Homo sapiens: one gene and its partner. The protein of the gene in region 2 interacts with the protein of the main gene of each other region in a biochemical or structural test. Each region holds a gene or a part of one and is shown on either strand. Other genes may lie near its edges.

Evidence for each region.
Region 1: of the proteins of CCNY (region 2) and CDK14, one has a biochemical effect on the other in vitro, tested with the Homo sapiens proteins (one study listed by BioGRID).

What each region holds. Positions count from the first base shown.
Region 1 is NC_000007.14:90,723,656-90,733,921, reverse strand, and holds part of CDK14 (cyclin-dependent kinase 14), read right to left. Parts: intron 7,356-10,266; coding exon 7,110-7,355; intron 1-7,109. UniProt on the Homo sapiens protein: Serine/threonine-protein kinase involved in the control of the eukaryotic cell cycle, whose activity is controlled by an associated cyclin.
Region 2 is NC_000010.11:35,330,682-35,341,210, reverse strand, and holds the start of CCNY (cyclin-Y), read right to left. Parts: upstream 4,703-10,529; 5' UTR 4,158-4,702; coding exon 4,004-4,157; intron 1-4,003. UniProt on the Homo sapiens protein: Positive regulatory subunit of the cyclin-dependent kinases CDK14/PFTK1 and CDK16.

The DNA of each region.
Region 1 (10,266 bases), on a different chromosome or scaffold from region 2:
AAATTGTAAAGACCATCAACGCTATGAAGAAACTGCATCAACTAATGGGCAAAATAACCAGCTAGCATCATAATAACACGATCGAATTCACACCTAACAATACAATAACCTAAAATGTAAATAGGTCAAATGCCCCAATTAAAAGACACAGACTGGCAAATTGGACAGAGTCAAGACCCATCAGTGTGCTGTATTAAGGAGACCCATCTCATGTGCAAAGACACACATACACTCAAAATAAAGGGATGGAGGAATATTTACCAACCAAACGGAAAGCAACAAAAGCAAGGGTTGCACTCGATAAAACAGGCTTTAAACCAACAAAGTTAAAAAGAAACAAAGAAGGACATTACTAATGGTAAAGGGATCAATGCAACAAGAAGAGGTAACTATCCTAAATATATATGCACCCAATACAGGAGCACCCTGATTCATAAAGCGAGTTCTTAGAGACCTACAAAGAGACTTAGACTCCCAAACAATAGTAGGAAACTTTAATATCAGACAGATCAATTAGACAGAAAATTAACAAAAATATCTAGGACTTGAACTCAGCTCTGGACCAAACAGACCTAAATGATATCTACAGAACTCTCCACCCCAAATCAACAGAATATACATTCCTCTCAGCACCACATCACACATACACTAAAATTGACCACATAACTGGAAGTAAAACACTCCTCAGCAAATGCAAAAGAATGGAAATCATAATAGTCTCTCAGACCACAGTGCAATCAAATTAGAACTCAGGATTAAGAAACTCACTCAAAACCACATAAGTACATGGAAACGGAACAACCTGCTCCCGAATGACTACTGGGTAAATAACGAAATTAAGGCAGAAATAAAGATGTTCTTTGAAACCAACGAGAACAAAGACACAACATACCAGAATCTCCAGGACACATTTAAAGCAGTGTGTAGAGGGAAATTTATAGCACTAAATGCCCACAAGAGAAAGCAGGAAAGATCTAAAATTGACACCCTAACATCAAAATTAAAAGAACTAGAGAAGGAAGAGCAAATACATTCAAAAGCTAGCAGAAGACAAGAAATAACTAAGATGAGAGCAGAACTGAAGGATATAGAGACAGGAAAAACTCTTCAAAACATCACTGAATACAGGAGCTGGTTTTTTGAAAGATCAACAAAATAGATAGACCTCTAGCCAGATTAATAAAGAAGAAAAGAGAGAAGAATCAAATAGACACAGTAAAAAATGATTAGGGGGATATCAACACCAATCCCACAGAAATACAAACTACTATCAGAAAATACTATAAATACCTCTATGCAAATAAACTAAAAAATCTAGAAGAAATGGATAAATTCCTGGACACATACACCCTCCTAAAACTAAACCAGGAAGAAGTAGAATCCCTGAATAGACCAGTAACAAGTTCTGAAATTGAGGCAGTAATTAATAGCCTACCAACCAAAAAAAGTCCAGGACCAGAAGGATTCACAGCCGAATTCTACCAGAGGTACAAAGGGGAGCTGGTACCATTCCTTCTGAAACGATTCCAAACAACAGAAAAAGAGGGAATCCTCCCTAACTCATTTTATGATGCCAGCATCATCCTGATAGCAAAGCCTGGCAGAGACACAACAAAAAAAGAAAATTTCAAGCCAATATCCCTGATGAACATGGATGAGAAAATTCTCAATAAAATACTGGCAAACCAAATCCAGCAGCCCATCAAAAAGCTTATCCACCATGATCAAGTCGGCTTCATCCCTGGAATGCAAGGTTGGTTGAACATAAGCCAATCAATAAATGTAATCCATCACATAAACGGAACCAAGGACAAAAACCACATGATTATCTCAAAAGATGCAGAAAGGGCCTTTGACAAAATTCAACAGCCCCTCATGCTAAAAACTCTCAAGAAACTAGGTATTGATGGGATGTTTCTCAAAATAATAAGAGCTATTTATGATAAACCCACAACCAGTATCATACTGAATAAGCAAAAACTGGAAGCATTCCCTTTGAAAACCGGCACAAGACAAGGATGCCCTCTCTCACCCCTCCTATTCAACATAGTATTGGAAGTTCTGGCCAGGGCAATCAGGCAAGAGAAAGAAATAAAGTGTATTCAATTAGGAAAACAGGAAGTCAAATTGCCTCTGTTTGCAGAGACATGATTGTATATTTAGAAAACCCCATCATCTCAGCCCAAAATCTCCTTAAGCTGATAAGCAACTTCAACAAAGTCTCAGGATAAAAAATCAATGTGCAAAAATCACAAGCATTCCTATACACCAATAACAGACAAACAGACAGCCAAATCATGAGTGAACTCCCATTCACAATTGCTACAAAGAGAATAAAATACCTAGGAATCCAACTTACAAGGGATATGAAGGACCTCTTCAAGAAGAACTACAAACCACTGCTGAAAGAAATAAGAGGACAAAAACAAATGGAAAAACATTCCATGGTCATGGATATGAAGAATCAATATCATGAAAATGGCCATACTGCCTAAAGTAATTTATAGATTCAATGCTATCCCCATCAAGCTATCATTGACTTTCTTCACAGAACTGGAAAAAACTACTTTAAATTTCATATGGAGCCTGCATAGCCAAGACAATCCTAAACAAAAAGAACAAAGCTGGAGGCATCACACTACCTGACTTCAAACTATACTACAAGGCTACAGTAACAAAAACAGCATGGTACTGGTACAAAAACAGATATATAGACCAATGAACAGAACAGAGACCTGAGAAATAACACCACACATCTACAACCATCTGATCTCTGACAAACCTGACAAAAACAAAGCAATAGGAAAAGGGTTCCCTATTTAATAAATAGTGTTGGGAAAACTGGCTAGCCATATGTAAAAAGCCAAAACTGGATCCCTTGCTTACACCTTATACAAAATTAACTCAAGATGGGTTATAGACTTAAATGTAAGACCTAAAACCATAAAAACCCTAGAAGAAAACGTTGGCAATACCATTCAGGACACAGGCATGGGCAAAGACTTCATGACTAAAACACCAAAAGCAATGGCAACAAAAGCCAAAATTGACAAATGGGATCTAATTAAACGAAAGAGCTCCTGCACAGCAAAAGAAACTATCATCAGAGTGAACAGGCAAACTCCAGAATGGGAGAAAATTTTTATAATCTATCCATCTGACAAAGGGCTAATATCCAGAATCTACAAAGAACTTAAACAAATTTACAAGAGAAAAAAGAAAACAACATCAAAAAGTAGGCAAAGAATATGAACAGACAATTCTCAAAAGAAGACATTTATGCAGCCAACAAACATGAAAAAAAGCTCATCATCACTGGTCAGTAGAGAAATGCAAATCAAAACCACAATGAGATACCATCTCACGCCAGTTAGAATGATGATCATTGAAACATCAGGAAACAACAGATGCTGGAAAGGCTGTGAAGAAATAGGAATGCTTTTACACTATTGGTGGGAGTGTAAATTAGTTCAATCATCGTGGAAGACAGTGTGGCAATTCCTCAAGGATCTAGAACTAGAAACACCATTTGACCCAGCAATCCCATTACTGGGTATATACCCAAAGGATTGTAAATCATTCTGCTATAAAGACACATGCACACGTATGTTTACTGCAGCATAGTTCACAATAGCAAAGACTTGAAACCAACCCAAATGCCCATCAAAGATAGACTGAATTAAGAAAATGTGGCACATATACACCATGGAATACTATGCAGCCATAAAAAAGGATGAGTTCATGTCCTCTGCGCGGACATGGATGAAGCTGGAAACCATCATTCTCAGCAAACTAAGAGAAGAACAGAAAACCAAACACCACATGTTCTCACTCATAAGTGGGAGTTAAACAATGAGAACACATGGACACAGGGAGGGGAACATCATACACCAGGGCTAGGGGAGGGATAGCATTAGGAGAAATATCTAATGTAAATGACAGGTTGACGAGTGCAGCAATCCACCATGGCAAGTGTATACCTATGTAACAAACCTGCATGTTCTGCACATGTACCCCAGAACTTAAAGTATAATTTTAAAAAAAGAAAAAATATATTTTTTAAAAGGGCAGCAAACAGAAAGGACTCAGAAAAAAACAGGATATTATAGCATCCTGCTGAAAGAGAAAACGAAGCCATTTCCAGTTTGATAAGGTAAGAGAAAAGACATTTTTCCAGGGCACATTGAATTGAAGCAAAAATTCCTAAAATAAAAAGAAAGCAAAGCAGTTCCCACACAAAGTAATATAAATGACCTAATATATATTAAAAAAAGTCATCCCAGGGTGAACCAGGAAAGGGTAAGCCCAAGATGATCTAAAGAAACTAAAAAATACAATAGAGAAACTGTGAAAACTTCCAGTGAAACTTGATGGCTTGAAAACATGTATTTATCTCTCCCCCTTACCAATTCATACTAAAACAATACTAAAATTAAAACCCATAAGGGCAATCAAAATGAGTAAAGAGAACACTAGAGACGAGATAGAAATAAAAATGTAAAGACAGGACACAAATGGTTGAGAAGTCACATTGCCTAGGATGAGTGGGGAAAAAAAAAAAAAAAAAAAAAAAAAAACCTTGATACCTACATGATCCAAGGCATAAGCCAGTAAGAAATAAGTCAATTCATACTTCAGAATCCCAAAAATACTCACAAACTGGAAGCTGAAGTTCAAGTTGGGGCTACAAATGATATGATTAGTTGGAGTGAATTTAAGGTGGAGGTCTTTGCCCCAGTCTCCCTCGGCCAGCCCCCTATCCCTTCCTAGTCCCGCCAGAGATTTATTCTCTGAAGAGGTTGAATCAGAGAATTCAACTGGGGCTTGGATACCAGGCAGAGTGGATATCAGATTGAAGAGTCATACCGAATGAAAAAAAAAAAAATCATGAGAAAGTTGGCATAGAGAACTGAAGGGTCCTCAGTCCCTTCTTGATCATCTCAGAATAGTGACAGCTAGGTTTATATGTCCTAAAAAAAATAAATTGGGTAAGTCCATTTTGTGAGAAACACCCAGTAACAAAAACAAGATCAAGAGACAGCGACATTTGAGAGTACTTAAATAAAACGACTAGGTCTTCACCAAGAGTCCCTATGCTGAAGCCAACCAACTGACAAGCCACCCAGGCACAGAGCTTCCAATCAACTTCTGAGTACATTACTCATAACATAAACTGACAGCCAACAGTTTCTCTCCAAGAGGCATGACATAGACCCACCAAAAATCTCAACAGGTAAGGCAGAGACCAAAACAAATAAACAGAAACAAGAAACTCAAAGGAAATCCAGAAATAATTCAGAGAATATGTAAAAGGAAAAAAAATTCCCCAAGCTACATTTTGTATCCTCAGAAACATATGAAGTGATATGTTATTCATTGAAATAGAACAGGATACTTTTTAAAAGAGCATTCAAAGAATAAGAAAGAGTTCATGGAAATAAATATTAGTATAATTAAAAATCCAATTGAAGGGTTAAAAATTAAAAGTTAAAAAAACCCAGAAGGTAGGAAAAAAAAGATTTAAAATAATAGGGAAAAGAAAAGGTAACTAGAAGATCAATCCAATAATGCCAACATCCAACTAATAAAAATGTTATCGTAAAAGAGAAGATTACAAAAAATTAAATAAACATATAAGAAAATTTTTGAAACTGAAAGAAATTAACTCAAAAATTGAAAACACCCATTGATACCAAGAAAAAGGATGACACCAGGGATGAAAAGAAAGTCCTAGAAAGTTCCACAAACAAAAAAGCAGATAAAGGATGAACTGGGAAACCAGAATAGTCTAGGGATTTCAATACAATCTAGGCACCTAGAAAACAATAAAACAAGGTATTCAAAAGTCTAAGAAAAAATTATTTTCTAAACTAAAATCACATACTTGGCCAGATTATTAATCAAGTAATCAACGACAGATAAAATCATAGTCATATGACAAACCCCCCATCACCCTTTCTCAAGAAGCTACTGCGAGGATGTACTTTAAAACAATGAAATAAACCAAGAACAAGAAAGACATGTAACCCAGAGAATGGGTATTTAACATTAAAAAAGGAGGAAAAAATTCTCAGAAAAGGACGCCTTATGACTATAGGATTAGAGGTTAACCAATCTATATTAAATTAGGACTATGAAGAACTGCCAGGGCAATCTCAGTGGGGGAGAAAAACTGATAGATTATCTGATTTGTTTTGGAGGCATTTTACAGTTTTGTCATATAGTTGCAGGCCTCAAATTGTGTTTAAAATTATCTTAATTTGAATGAAGGAAAAGTAGACAATGACAACTAAGAAAATGAAGAAGTTGTGCAAGGAAGGAAATTTATTCATAGCATACTTGTGGTTTCCCTGACCAAAATTTACATTATCATACAATTGTAAATAATGTATATTAATTTAAGCCAAAAAGTAGGAAAAAATGTATTTGAGAATAGAAATATAACAGAGAATATTCTCTCTTGGTGTGTTCCTTTCTAACTTGTAAATCACTAGTTATATCTAAAGTCTGTTTCCCTCTAACACTTCTTTCTGGACATTCTCTTCTTTCCTTTGGTCCTACTGAATCTACCCTACACAGATTTCTACTCCAGCATTTTCCATTCAGTACAGGGCTTTGTCCTGGAAAAGAACTTCAACTTGTCACTTTACAGAGTCACATGAGAAAGACTGGTGGAGTACCCCCCCAAAAAAAACTGGATTAACGCAAGTGAACAAATTTTGATATTTATTCTGCAATGAAATTCCTTGTGAATTTGCTAATTTCAAAACTATCCTTACTGCCTACACAGTAAAGTTCAATAACCTCTCCAAGGGTTTGAAATACAAAAGACTTTTAATTATAAATTCCTCTAACTAGAAACAATTAAGGGGGAAAAATGATTTTTCCAAAAATAAGTTGAATCATTTCATTCATTTGCTTGCTTAGTGCTTATAAATAAGGAGTCCATATATAGTTTGCTCTCTCTCTTCCAAAACATTCAACCACCCTGGGAGAGAATGCATAATAAGGCACTGATAAAGTTTCCTGCTGTCTTCCAGCACCGCATGCTATCATAAGAAGGCTATTCCTTCTGTTTACCCAGTGATAAACAAAAAGACTGCACTTACCGAGCTGGGGCTGGAGTGCCGCCTAACTTTAGGTGACTCTTTGCCAGTGGAGGAGGTCTTAAAGTTAATGCAAGCATTGTTCTCAGAATGCACCCTCTTTACTTGATTAGCTGGTTTCTCAAATGGGTCAAAAGTGCTCTGTGTCCTCTGAACTCTGACTTTTTTATCCTCAGGAATTGTGTCCAGGGGTTTGATCACTGAGTCCATTCCCTGGCAGTTCCGTGTAGACATCTTTGTGACACATATCTGAGAAAAGAAGAAATTAAATTCAGAACTCTTCACTGCAACTTTAATATCACTAAACATGCCAATATATAACTCTAGAAAGCATGCCAATTTCAGTTTCAGGAAATACCCAAAAAGCCCACATTCTAAAAGCTGCATCAGCATAAATTACAGTACAAAAAAATCCTCACAATCATTGTGTTTACACTTAGATCTCACACTAGAGCTTACACTAAAAAATCTACCTCTAAAATGAGAAACTTAAGGCCCAGGCTGCTAGTAGTACCCTAACATGATTCTTGAACTCTGTCACACGTTTTACCATCTGACTGGAAGTGGTTTATTTCTGAATCATTAAGAGGTTGGGTAACTAGCCTTAATTTAAAAAACAAAAAATAGGCAAATCAGATGGACATTAACTGATGGGTCATCGTGTAAGCAGCTAACCTAGGCTAGAGAAGGAAAGGGCATTATGTTGTTTAAAAGTTTTATGCATGAATATGTATGCTTAAAATCTGTCCCCATCTTGATTTCATCTCCAAATTGGAATGAATGGAGCTAATGGTTAGAGATACTGAAGAACTGAGGACAATGGTGGGGGTTTCCTTTATTTCAAAGCTAATGGATAAAAAGAAATAACATTGTAAAAGAAAAACACCAAAAAGCATTCATTTCAAAATTTGGTTTACATTATTCCACTAGACCTCCACCTCCTTCCCTTCTTCTTCCTTCTTCACCCATTCTCTTCTCACCCAGCCTTCCCCACCCTCTCATTTTATTTCAGTCTCTGTGATTTTTGCTCCTTGCTTTTTACTTTAGTTCTAAGCCTGTCATTCTCCCGATACTCTGGAGACTTTGTTGTCTTTATTCAATAATTTGATGGCCTCTGGCTTGTCTGTAAAGCTAACTAATTTAATTGTTCTCTCTAAAGAAAATATAACTCTAAATAAAATTGTTTTTAGAATGCTTTTCTTCTTATAAAAAGTTCCCACATCCCTATATGCTATCAAAAGCAGAAAAACCGAAGATATTTATGAAAAGCCCACACTGTTAAGGTAAAAATACGAAGTTTTTGAATACACACTTTGGGTCCGTGGTTGGTTGAGTATGTGCATACAGAACCCACAGATACACAGAGCTAATATGTATAGAATGACTCCATGTGGGGTATAAATGCGGCTATGTATATGGATAGATATAGACAGATACAGATATAAATACAGACACAGATGCATAGATATAGATATTTGTGAGTGTATGAGCATGGTGAAAAGTATACAGGAAAACACACCACCAAACTATTAACATCAGATATCTCCAGACATGTGGAATTGAACGGGCAAGATTAGCAATTTTTGGTACACTCTTGTGTGAATTTTATAATAAATATTCCAACATATGTAATGTTTTAAAAACCACTAAAGTAGAAAAGCATGTATAATTAAAATAAGCCATTTCAAGTTTTTGAAACAAAAAGTTTTTAATCATTAAACATCAACCCTATGAGTATGTCTCAACTACTAAGCACAGGCTGAATTCTAACTAAGTCAAATGAGAAAAATATTATCATACTTTTTAGCATGTGAGAAAACAGCTGAAGATATTTTTAAAAGACTCAAGGCAGAGTCCTCTAGTCATGATCAAAAAGTAAAAATGAATTACAAGTATGTTGGAGCATGCAATATTTTTAAGGGTTTTTGTGCTCTTCTTAAGGACATGAAGGCAGTAAATAAGAAACCACCCACATCACTAAAGCAATTAAATTATAAATACATGGGCCTGAGAAGTCAATGAACTGCAAACACAGAAAATTTGAAAGAAAAAAAAATGTAAGGGCACGTTGAAATCAAATTACTTAAAATAGAAACTAAAAGATAAGGATGACAGAAAATAGTTGATGACTAAATTAATAGAGAAAGGCAATTAGAAAGCATCTTGGACTAAATAAAAATGAAAACACAAAATACGAAAATGGTGAGATTCAGCTAAAGTAGTACTTTAGCTGTAGGAAAATTTGTAACACTAAATGACTAGAGAAAAGAAGAAAAGTCTCAAAGCAATAACCTCAGCTTCCACCTTAAAATACTAAAAAAAAAATAAATAAATAAAGCAAATAAAAACCAAGATAAGAAGAGTGAAATAATAAATAAGAAAGTGGATATAAATAAAATAGAAAACAGAAAACAATAAAGAAAAATCAATAAAACCAAAAGCTGGTTTTCAGAGAAGTTTTTTTTAAATGATGAACATCTAGCCAGACAGATAAGGGGAAAAAAAAGTAGAAAATATACATCGCCAATATTACTATCAGGAATGGGAGCAGTGATATCACTACAGATGTTCTACAAATACTACAAACAACATTGTGCCAATAAATTCCACAACTTAGATGAAACCAATTATTTGAAAGACAAAAACTACCAAAGCTCACTCAGTTAAAAAAAAAAATAGATAACATGAATAGGCCTGTGTCTATGACAGGAATTGAATTTGTGGTCAAAAACATTACCACAAAGATAATGCCAGGGCCAGGTGGCACCACTGGTGAAGTTAAAACAAACATTAAAGGAAGAAATGACTTCAATTGTACAGAAACCCTTTCAAAATACTGATGAAGAGGATATACTTCCCAATTCATTTTATAAGGCCAGTGTCATTCCAATACCAAAGCCACACAAGAACATTGTAAGGAAACTACAGATCAATCTCTCTCATGAACACAGATGCAAAAAATTACTGGTACATCTTCAACAAATTGAATGCAACAATATATAAAGAAGATAGTAAACCATGACAATGTCACACTAATCCCACGAATGCAAGGTTGGCTTAACATTCACAAATCTGTAATTCACCATTTTAAAATACAGTGGTAGGCAGTCTCTAACATGGCTCCCAATAACACCCACTTCTAAGTATTCACACTCTTATG
Region 2 (10,529 bases):
GGAAGGAGGCCAATGTGGCTGGAATGAGCAAGCGACTGAGTGAGCTGATGGCAGGCAGATCCCAAGGGGCCCCAGCGACCACTGTAAGGCTTTTACTTGTGCAATAACGAGTCACTGCCGTTTTTGAGTGAAGGAATAAGTTCAAGTTTTTTAAAGGATCTTAGCCATGGCTGTTGTGTCGAGAACAGACTGGAGCAGGCAAGGGTGGAAGCAGGGAGACCAGGTGGGCTGGGGGAGATGGCAGCTGCTTAAATCTCCAGAAGAGCAGCAGCAGAGGTCTTGAGAGTGGTCAAAGTCTGATATATTCTGAGGGCAGAGAGCCACATTTTCCTACCAGATATGATACAGGACGAGGGAGAAAGTGAGTTGTCAAGGATGACAGGTAAACTATAAAAATGAAAAGAGTGGGCCAGGAGCAGTGGCTCACCCCTGTAATCCCAGCACTTTGGGAGACTGAGGCGGGCAGATCACTTGAGGTCAGGAGTTCGAGACCAGTATAACAAATATGGAGAAACCCCATCTCTACTAAAAATACAAAATTAGCCAGGCGTGGTGGCGCATGCCTGTAATCCCAGCTACTTGGGACGCTGAGGCAGGAGAACTGCTTGAACCCGGGAGGTGGAGGTTGCAGTGAACCAAGATTATGCCACTGCACTCCAGCCTGGGTGACAGAGCAAAACTCCATCTCAAAAAAAAAAAAAAAAAAGAATGAAGTTGCCATCAACCATTTTAAGGTAAAACCCTACAAGGACACTATGGTACAGCTGTTACAAGTATCCTGATTTATTTGGTCTCCTCACATTTTAAATTCTCTTTAGTCCCTCCCTCCCTTTCTCCTCCCACAGAAATAATCTAATCCTGGAAGTCTGGACTGAATAACTGCTGCAGACAGAAGAAGTTTATCCTTGAGAAAGTATGGATATGACTGCAATGACAAGACACCCTATCCCAGAAGGCAACCCCAGACTAGCTAACGTTTGATGGCTAAGTCAAGCAACAATGGAAAGTTTCCATTTGCCATGTATTGGCTGTGTGACTTTGGACAAGTCATTTCTCCTCTCAGTGACTCATTTCTTTGTCTTAAAGTAAGGGTAATATTACCCATAGGGTTACTGTGAGTTCTAAGTAAATGAATGGAATCCAAGTACTTAGAGCGGCAGCTGGTGACAGCTGCTACAGAGTAAGTAATACATAGGCTGCAATTATTACTATCATTTTTTTATTTTCCTAAAGAATTGTTCTGAAGATTACTATTGTTGTTATGTGTTGCTGTTTTTTCTCAATCTCTGAATGATTTTATAAGAAATAATACCTGGAAAGCATGAGTCCAATATCAATTTCAAAAACATGAATAACCTAACACTAAGATAAACTGAGCAAAAAGACACATTAAGTTGCCATTAAGCACCATAGACACCTAAGTTCCCAGACACTAAAATTACTGAAATTCTACAGGACAAGTATTACCCCTTCATGTGCCTGGTGACAAAGGGAAGAAAGCATGGATACATATGTCATATCTCTGTGATTTAAAGACACTAACCTATCATAGAAGACCCATGAACTTCAAACCTTTCTAAACCAGCTGGGTGGGATGTTTTTCAGGACATAAAAAATATGGTATTTGAGTACTTCAGCTTTTGATATATACTAGAGTCAATGATTCTTAAAATGTAGTTTTAAAATGTTTACTAATAACCTAACAATCAATATAACTCAGTTCAAATACATACAGATATAGATGAGCAAATACAGACATATAGATGTATATAGTGTGTATATATATACACTCTATTTAATTAAAACCTGTTCTCTTCTCTCAGCCTCTAATAATGAATTTCTACCAAAAATGTCCCTGAACGGCAGGTAACACTTCCAAGATTTGCCCAGCCAGCAATTCTCAGGCCTACCTGCATCTCAGAATCACCTTGGAGAGATTTAAACATATTAATGGCAATGTCCAGTACTAGATTTCTGGTTTAACTGAAACCAATGTTGAGAACTGCTGGCTGGGTCAATGCTAGAAGTATTATTTATTGAATTTGAGAGACAGAAGGTGAATTAATATTTCGGGGTTTAAACTAGCATAATCATATGAACTGGGATCTGGGATGAGAGGGCACTCCACAGCCTAGATTGGAAACCTGCCCTATACTCTCTCAAACTATCCTGAATCTGCAAAAGAGTCTTCCAAACATTCTCTCAAAAATTCCTGATGACTGAAACTTAAGATTTCTTTGAAATGAAAGAACACACAATATCATTTCACTGTACTCTGGCAAAATTGTACTGAGCCTTAGTGCCAAATACCTGGTTACACTTATTTTTTCCACCTTATTTCCTTACAATAGTCTATAATAACTGTATGCAGCCTGGCTCTAAGAAATGTAAATCTTCTTTTTTTTCTTTTTTGATCCATCATTCAAAACAAAGCCTCCGCTAGATACTGCACAACATAAAAAGGAAATTTACTGCACATCATAAAGAAGACATTATTTCCAAATGTTTTCGCCTGTCAACATAGTATAGGACTGGGTAATGGCTTTCTGTAATAAACTCATTCATTTATTCCTCCCTTTAAAGTACAATACTTACTGTTTATTATATGCTAGACTTTTCTTTCAGGTGCTAGAGGCTGTGAAAGTGATCAAGACCGATCTGGCCTTCATCCTTCTAGATGCCTTTAAATGCATAAATTTAAGAAGAAAGTATGGCTGTAGTTCAAAGACATCTAAGCGTATGTTTAAAATAATGGAAATCTAAAATAACAACACTAGACACGTCATATGGAACCATAATTTACTAAGCGCGTACTAGAAACCAGACGTTGTGTTACTCCCTTTATACATGGCACTCATTTAATAAAGATGCTCTCCTAAAAAGATTAAACTACCATTTAGAAGAAATTACACGAAGACAAACGAGAAAAATCTTTCCTTTAGCAAAGTTTAAATGTGGCCTTTCCACAGTGGAGAGAATCTTCCATCCTAAAGTGGACAGGAACGAATTATGAAGTTGTGTTCATTCATTCACACAAAAATTTCTTCATATTAGTTCAACCAGATTAACTATGAGAAGATGTTTGGGTTAAAAAAATCACCTTGTCATAAAAAGATACTTCCAATTTCAAATCTTTTCAGTTGAAAATTCTATAAACTATATTTTAAGCATGATGCATAAATATCCCTCTGTCGTTATCACTGAGCAACAGTGCTAATAAATATGTTGCCAAACCAATAAAATAAATAAAACATTACTGCGTGCAGTAATTAGTCTTAGCTTTTTTTCTTTTTGCAAACTCCAGACCAACCAAAAGTCACCTGAATAAATCAGAAATTCATAGGACTGCAATTCGGGCCCATGCAAAAACTGAGACTTAACCCAAAGGTGTCTGACAATCTTTTAAAGAGCATTCTCGGGAGAAGCTATTTGACTAATCCTGGAACCGCCACTCAAAAAAATCATTTTTTAAAAAAAACGGTAGAATGGGAACGGGGGAAGTGGAGTCCATTTGTAAGGTTCCGGGGAACTGACTCAACATGGTTCTCCAACTCGAGGTTGGAGACACCGGGATTCCAAAATGGGAATCCACTCACTTCGCTTTTATAGGACAAACGCGTGCACAACTTGGCTTCGGGCTGCATTCAGGTAGTGCCGGGAACCCCGAGCTCCCGGGCCGCCCCCACCCAGCTCTGGCCGCTCCATTAAGGACGAGGGCCGGCTCCTGTCACCTCGCGACCCACGCGCACACACCCGCCCTAGGCCCGCCGTGCTCGATGCCGCGGGCCTGCAAAGTTTCCGCGGCCGCTCACTTGGGGGTAACCAGCGAGGGGTACGCCCAGAGGCTGCGGGGCCCCGGGCGCCTAGGCTGCGCGGGCGAAGCCCCGGTTATGCACGGGTCGCCGAGACCGGCTGGGCAAGCAAGAGCAGCCGGGCCGCCCCGACGTTGGCTGTGCGACTGTTGCCGCGGGGGCGGGTAGGGGGCTCGGCGGGCCGCACTCACCGTCTATGTTCTCCCGGTCGCTGATGTGCTGCAGGTTGCAGCCCGTGTCCTCGCGGCTCAGGTCCGTGTCTGGCCGGTAGGACTCCAGCCGGGAGTGGGCATTCCTCCGGAGCTTGGGACTGGACGACACGCAGCACGAGGTAGTGTTCCCCATCTTCGGCGGCCCCCCGACTCCTGCTGCTATCCTGTTCTCCCAGTCCCCGGGAGCGGGGCGCGGGTGGACGCGGGGCGCGGGCGGCGGGGGCGTGTGGGGAGGCCCGCCCGCTCGCCGCCACGGGAGGGGGCGGAACGGCGGCCGGCCGCCGGGTCAGCAGCGGCGGCGGCGGCGGGGCCTCGCCATGGGCGGCGGCGGCGGCGGCGGCGACGAGCGGGCGACGGCCCCGGCTCCCCCTCGGCCGGCCTATCCGCGGCGGAGGAGCGCTCGGGTCCGCGCGACTGCGGCCGCCGCGCCTACCTCACCCCGCCGCGGCCATGGCGGGCGGCGCCGCGCAGGCCGCCTCCCCCCCGCGCTTCCCCAGTTGGTGTCCGCTTCCCCGGCGGCTGCGGCGACGGCGGCCGCCTCGGCAAGAGGTTCCGGTTCAAGCCGGGGGCACGCGTGTCCGCGCCGGACGGCGGGACTAGCCGACGAGCGGGCGGGCAGCGGGCGTGGGCGCAGCCCCCGGACTCCTCGCGGCGCGGTGCGGCGCGGCCAGGGAGGATGCTGGCGGCCCTCCCTCGCCAGCGGCGCCCGCCCTCGCCGCAGCCCCCGCCCCGCCCCGTCACCGCCCCTTCCCTCTGCCCTGGAAGCAGATCGGCGGCCGCGGGGAGGTTCGGGGCGGCGCAGCCCCGCGCGGTTGTGGGATCGCTCCCGGGGGCCGCTCCTCTCTCGGGCACTGGGGTCGCGGGAGACGTCGTCGGGAGCTCGGTTTCTGGAGGCCCTTCCCCACCCGGCCTCTGCCTCCTCCACTCCCCCGGGCTGGACGGAACGGGGCCCAGCGCGGGATGCGAGGTGCGTCCCCGGGGCCCGCAGCGGGCGGGAGCGCAGCCAGGGCCCGGTCGGGGACGCAGGCCCAGGGCGCTGAGGCTGCACCTGCCTCTCCGAAACCGGGCTGGCTCTTTTTGTCTTTTTATTTTTCTAATTTATTTTTTTAGAGGTATGATTTCGCTCTGTCGCCCAGGCTGGAGGGCAGTGGCGCAATCTCGGCTCACTGCAGCCTCGAACTCCTAGGCTGAAGCGATTCTCCCGCCTCAGCCTCCAAAGTAGCCGGTACTACAGGCGCGCGCCACCACGCCTGGCTAAGGTGTGTGTGTGTGTGTGTGTGTGTGTGTCTCCAAAGTAGCGAGGACTACGGGTGTGTGTGTGTGTGTGTGTCTCCAAAGTAGCGAGGACTACAGGCTCCCGCCACTACGCCAGGCTAAGGTAGGGTGTGTATGTGTGTTAACTTTTTGTAGAGATGGGATCTCCCTTTGTAACACGGGCGCCCGCCACTAAGCCAGGCTAAGGTGGTGAATGTGTGTGTGTGTGTGTGTTAACTTTTTGTAGAGATGGGATCTCGCTTCGTAACCCGGGCTGGTATCGAACTCCTGTCTTCAAGGAATCCTCCCGTCTGGACTCCTCCCATGGGATTACGGGCATGAGCCACGGCACCTGGCTATTTTTTTTTTCTAAGCATTTAAATAAGCTGGGGCTTGATTTGGGAGTTTTCTATTGTATTTTGAGCTTTGCCGAGGACTTGATAGTGACCTTGCTTTAAGCTGTGAAATAAATCTTGGGGTCCCAGAGCTATTTTAATATTGAATTCGCTGTGGAGTTGTTTTGAGTTCCTTGGAGGTTAACATGAGATAGAAAACTAAGTTAACACAACTCATCGACTGCCCTTGCTTTGCTTTGCTTTGCTTTTAGAATGCCATCGGGTTTTGTCATGTTGGGAACAAGTTAACTTAGGCCAGTTGACTAAGATCAAGGTATGTGAACATGCCTGGCTGGGAGAGAAGTAGAGTAAATGTTGGTTCGCATTCCCTCCCGACGCCCACAATGCCAGCCATCCCTGACTTTTCTTGCCTTTATTGGGAAGAATATAAGGTGGCAGAAACAAACTTCCCACCCTTTTTCCAAATATTTACTGAAGGAGTCTTGAGGAGAGTCTTGTGGGGTGGGGGGGTGGGGGTGGGAGCTGGGAATGTTTTTGAACTAGTTCTTGAAAAAAAAACTAGTACAATAGTACAACTGTCTTAATTTTATATATGAGGAAACTGAGGCCCAGAGATGAAATCATGCCTTGATTTATGCAGACCTCAGTACCTGTTCGTGACAAATCCAGTTACTAAAAGGTAAGAGAAGGAATAAGGGACTTGATATTTATCTAGCATCAGCAATGTGTGGACATCGTGTGAACGGCTTTATAAACATTTCATTTAATTCTCTACATCTAGCCATTTTTTAACCTGTGCTTTCCCTCCCTCTCAAAGTACTGTTTATACATTTATTAGTCCATATTTTAAACGCTCCATGCTCTCAACTGTATTAATGCTATTTGTTAGGATAAGTGGCAGATGTCCATGGAAAATAAGTGGCTGCAAAGTGGTAATGCTGACCAGATGAGAAAAGAAGTGTAAAAGGGAAGTTCTAAAGAATTAAAGCCCTGGAGAGGGTGGGTAGACAACAACAGTCCAAAATAGTGCTCTTCATTGAGGCTGTGTAGATTTTCCTGCTTCCTGGGAAAACTGGGGCATATTTACACTTGCATGTGTGTATTCAGATTGTCTGGGGCTATGGAGTTTGGGTCAGATTGCTGAACCCGTGGGAGAGAAGTTCCCTTGTTGTCTGTTGTTGTCTGTTCTGATTGCTGCTTTGTAATTTGGGCCACATATGAAAGTCAGCATCCAGTCATTGGACCATAGGTGTGTGGCATATCTACTCAGATGCATTAAGCTATTTTTATTTCATTATAAAATGTATAACATTTACATTCAAATTATGGTTTGAAGGGCTTAAGAGGAGAAAGAGACAGTGGCACTAAGGTGACAGCATGGCTGGCTGCATGCTTCCTGTCCAAGAAGGTCACTGGGCAGTGTTAACTGGGAAGAGCATCTGGAGGATGAGAGATCAGTGTAGCCACATACCCTTAACAAAGGGTGGTACAGCCTCTGGTCTGCCAGGATTTTTGTGCCCCGCCCCCCTCCCCCTCTTTCCCTATCTCCTCTTTGACATTTCCACCATATTCCCCTTAGGTATGTACCTGTTTGGACTTTAATTTAGAGTGTAACTTTTGGTCAAGAATCCTGGAGAGAAAAGACGGGTACTAAAGCCTCGCTAGTGATTTACCTGGGTGCCGACCCCCACAACTCATCCACCCTACATGCATACTTCAAACTCCTCCAGGCAGATACTCCCTGCCTGACACACAGTGACACTTTGGGAAAAATTGCAGAACAGTAACCAACTCTGAGCAGATAAATGTGATGTCAAAATGATAGTAATGAGAGATGTCGTTCGTTGAAAGCCTGCTAGCTGCCATGCACTATACTATTTCTTACATCTAAATCTGATTAAGTTATACCCCATTTTATAAATAGACACTTTGATAAGTAAACCTATCTAAGATCAAAATACTGAGAAATGTCCTAATTGGGGATTTGAACCTGGTTCTAATTCCAAAGTCCAAGCTACATCCACCCCAACCTCCTACCTCCTATCTCCAAGACTTTGTGAGTAAAAAAACAAGTGTCACTTCTCTCCTTCTCTTTTTTCTGTCCTAAAGGAAGCTGGGAGCTAACCACTTAGGACTAGTACTAATCTTTCAGAGAAAGGGATGAGGGGAGCCTTGTTATTTCTGTGGGGTTCAGCTCTCAGACCAGAGTAAGACAGGCAACAAGGTTGAGGAGTAGCCATATGCAGAAATAACCTGTGTATCTAGCCACAGGATCTCCAACACTGTGTCACTCGGGAATCAAAATACAGAGACAGTTCCTCAATAGAGTGTGGATCTAGCCCAGAATGTGGACAAGGGGAGTGGAGAAGGGGAGAGGTACACACTGAGCATTGTAACAAGGCCTGTCCTCAAGCTTGAGGAGGATTAGGAAGATGGCTTGAGTCTGGGAGTAGGAGGCTGCAGTGAGCTATGATTGTACCACTGTACCCCAGCCTAGGTGACAGAGTGAGACCCTGTCTCTTAAAAGAAAAAAAAAATTGACCTGGATCTACTCATACCCACCCTGGTCTTTGAGCAGAAAGAATCATTTGGGAATTATTTTGTCTCATCTTTCTCCATGATCACTGTTGAAGAATTTGGTCACTGTAACCAGGTAAATATAAAACTCAGGTGGGCCGGGCGCGGTGGTTCACACCTGTAATCCCAGCAGTTTGGGAGGCTGAGGTGAGTGGATCACGAGGTCAGGAGATCAAGACCATCCTGGCTAACACAGTGAAACCCTGTCTCTATTAAAAATACAAAAAATTAGCCAGGCGTGGTGGTGGGCGCCTATAGCTCCAGCTGCTCGGGAGGCTGAGGCAGGAGAATGGTGTGAACCCGGGAGGTGGAGGTTGCAGTGAGCCGAGATCGTGCCACTGCACTCCAGCCTGGGTGACAGAGCAAGACTCCGTCTCAAAAAAAACTCAGATGAACTATAGCTAAGTCAGTGCTCTTGACACTTTTTTAGCAATAGTAGCTTTGTTTCTCACAGAAAAAACAAAATTTTCTGTGGAACCACACTATTTAAAACATAAGCAATATTAGTATCAACTTGTATAATTTATAGATCTACTGATAAAAACAATCAAGAATAGTCTACCTTAATTGAATCAGGAGGAGATAACTGCAGTCTTACATCAGCCATACTCGTATCCATGAAATATGAGTCAGTCATTTGCACAACTCCCTGAGTCACCTTCTGGAACACAGAAAACACTGAGCCAAGTTAGCCCAGGACCTGAACCTTTTGTGGAAAGGAAAATCTGTAGTGTCTCCTCAGAGTATGGCTGCCCTTTCACCTGGTAGTCAGTTTCTCATGACGGTTACTCGAGCATTTATAAGGCAGTTGTGAAATAACCAAGACATTCTGTGTGTTGTGCTACTGATGCTCCTCCTGTCACCGACCTCCTCTCCAAATGAGGCCTGCCTTTTGTCCTTGGTAGTAGGCAGTCCACAGTGTAACCAGCTACAGGGGAAGTATTTACTTTGATAGCCACTTGACCTTGATCAAGTCAGGTGACTCATTTCTGGATAACATTTTTGAGAGTATACTGAGCCAGGCACCTTGAGGATACGAAAGTGGATTATAGTTTCCATTCTGGAGAAACTCACAGTCCAGTAAGTTAAACAATCACAAGAACAAGTTTCCAGCAATGAGAGTGATTACAGCCACTGAGTGGTGAAATCTGAGAAATGCAAAGCCTGCCGCCTATAAATACCTACATTTATCGCCTGGGCATATACCTAAAATTCCACCATGAGAAATATATTTATATGAAATTAGAAACTACCCAGAAATTGTGCGTCCAAATAAAAATTCCCACAAGAAATAAGGATGGCTAATAGTTTTAAGTAGTAGTGTCAAGTCTTTTGGACCAGAGTAACTGCCAGGGACGTTGTGTTGAGGATTCTGAGGTCATGTTCCAGCTTAGCCGAGAAGGGAGCCACCATGAGGGAACGAGTGAGGGAGGGTAGCACTTGTGCCCCATATTTTTTCCTAAGTAAATCATTTGTTGATGGAATGCATGATGAAACAGGGACAGCCAGGGTCTCTGGCATCTGGGAGAAAGCCCACTTGGAAACTGATTTATCTACCTCACCACTGCAAGTTCACCATTTGTCCCCAGACTAAATGGCCTTAGGAAGCCCAGGCTCTGTCTTGTCGAACTCTACCTTCTTTATCCTTCCATACTTTTCAAGAAGAGAAATGGTATATATATGTGGGATCCTTGAGAACTAGGATGTACCTGTGAGCAGGCAAAGTGTAGCATCTAGCAGGGTCAGGCATAAGTTGGAAGTGAGAGAGGTGGCTACTGTGCTCCCCAATGGCTGTTCTCCCATCTCCCATAGTTTCAAGGCCTGTTTTGTGAGGAACAGCAGTATGCCCAGCTCAAAGATGACAGCTGGCCACAGGACTAAGTCTGGCCAATAAGATGTGAGTGGACGCTTCCAGAAAAGCTCTCTAAAGAGGCTACCTCTAGCCAGGCGCAGTGGCTCACGCCTGTAATCCTAGCACTTTGGGAGGCCAAGGCAGTGGATCACCTGAGGTCGAGAGTTCAAGACCAGCCTGGCCAACATGGCAAAACCCCGTCTCTACTAAACATACAAAAATTAGCCGGGCATGGCCGTGCCGCATGCCTGTAATCCCAGCTACTCAGGAGGCTGAGGAGGGAGAACTGCTTGAACCCAGGAGGTGGAGGTTTGCAGTGAGCTGAGATGTTGCCACTGCACTCCAGCCTGCACGACAGGAGCGAGCCTCCATCTCAAAAAAAAAAAAAAAATAAAAGCTGCCTCTTCTCTGCTTCTTGGAGTATGGTCAGGATAGCTGGAATTCTAGCATCCAGTTTTGAATGCCA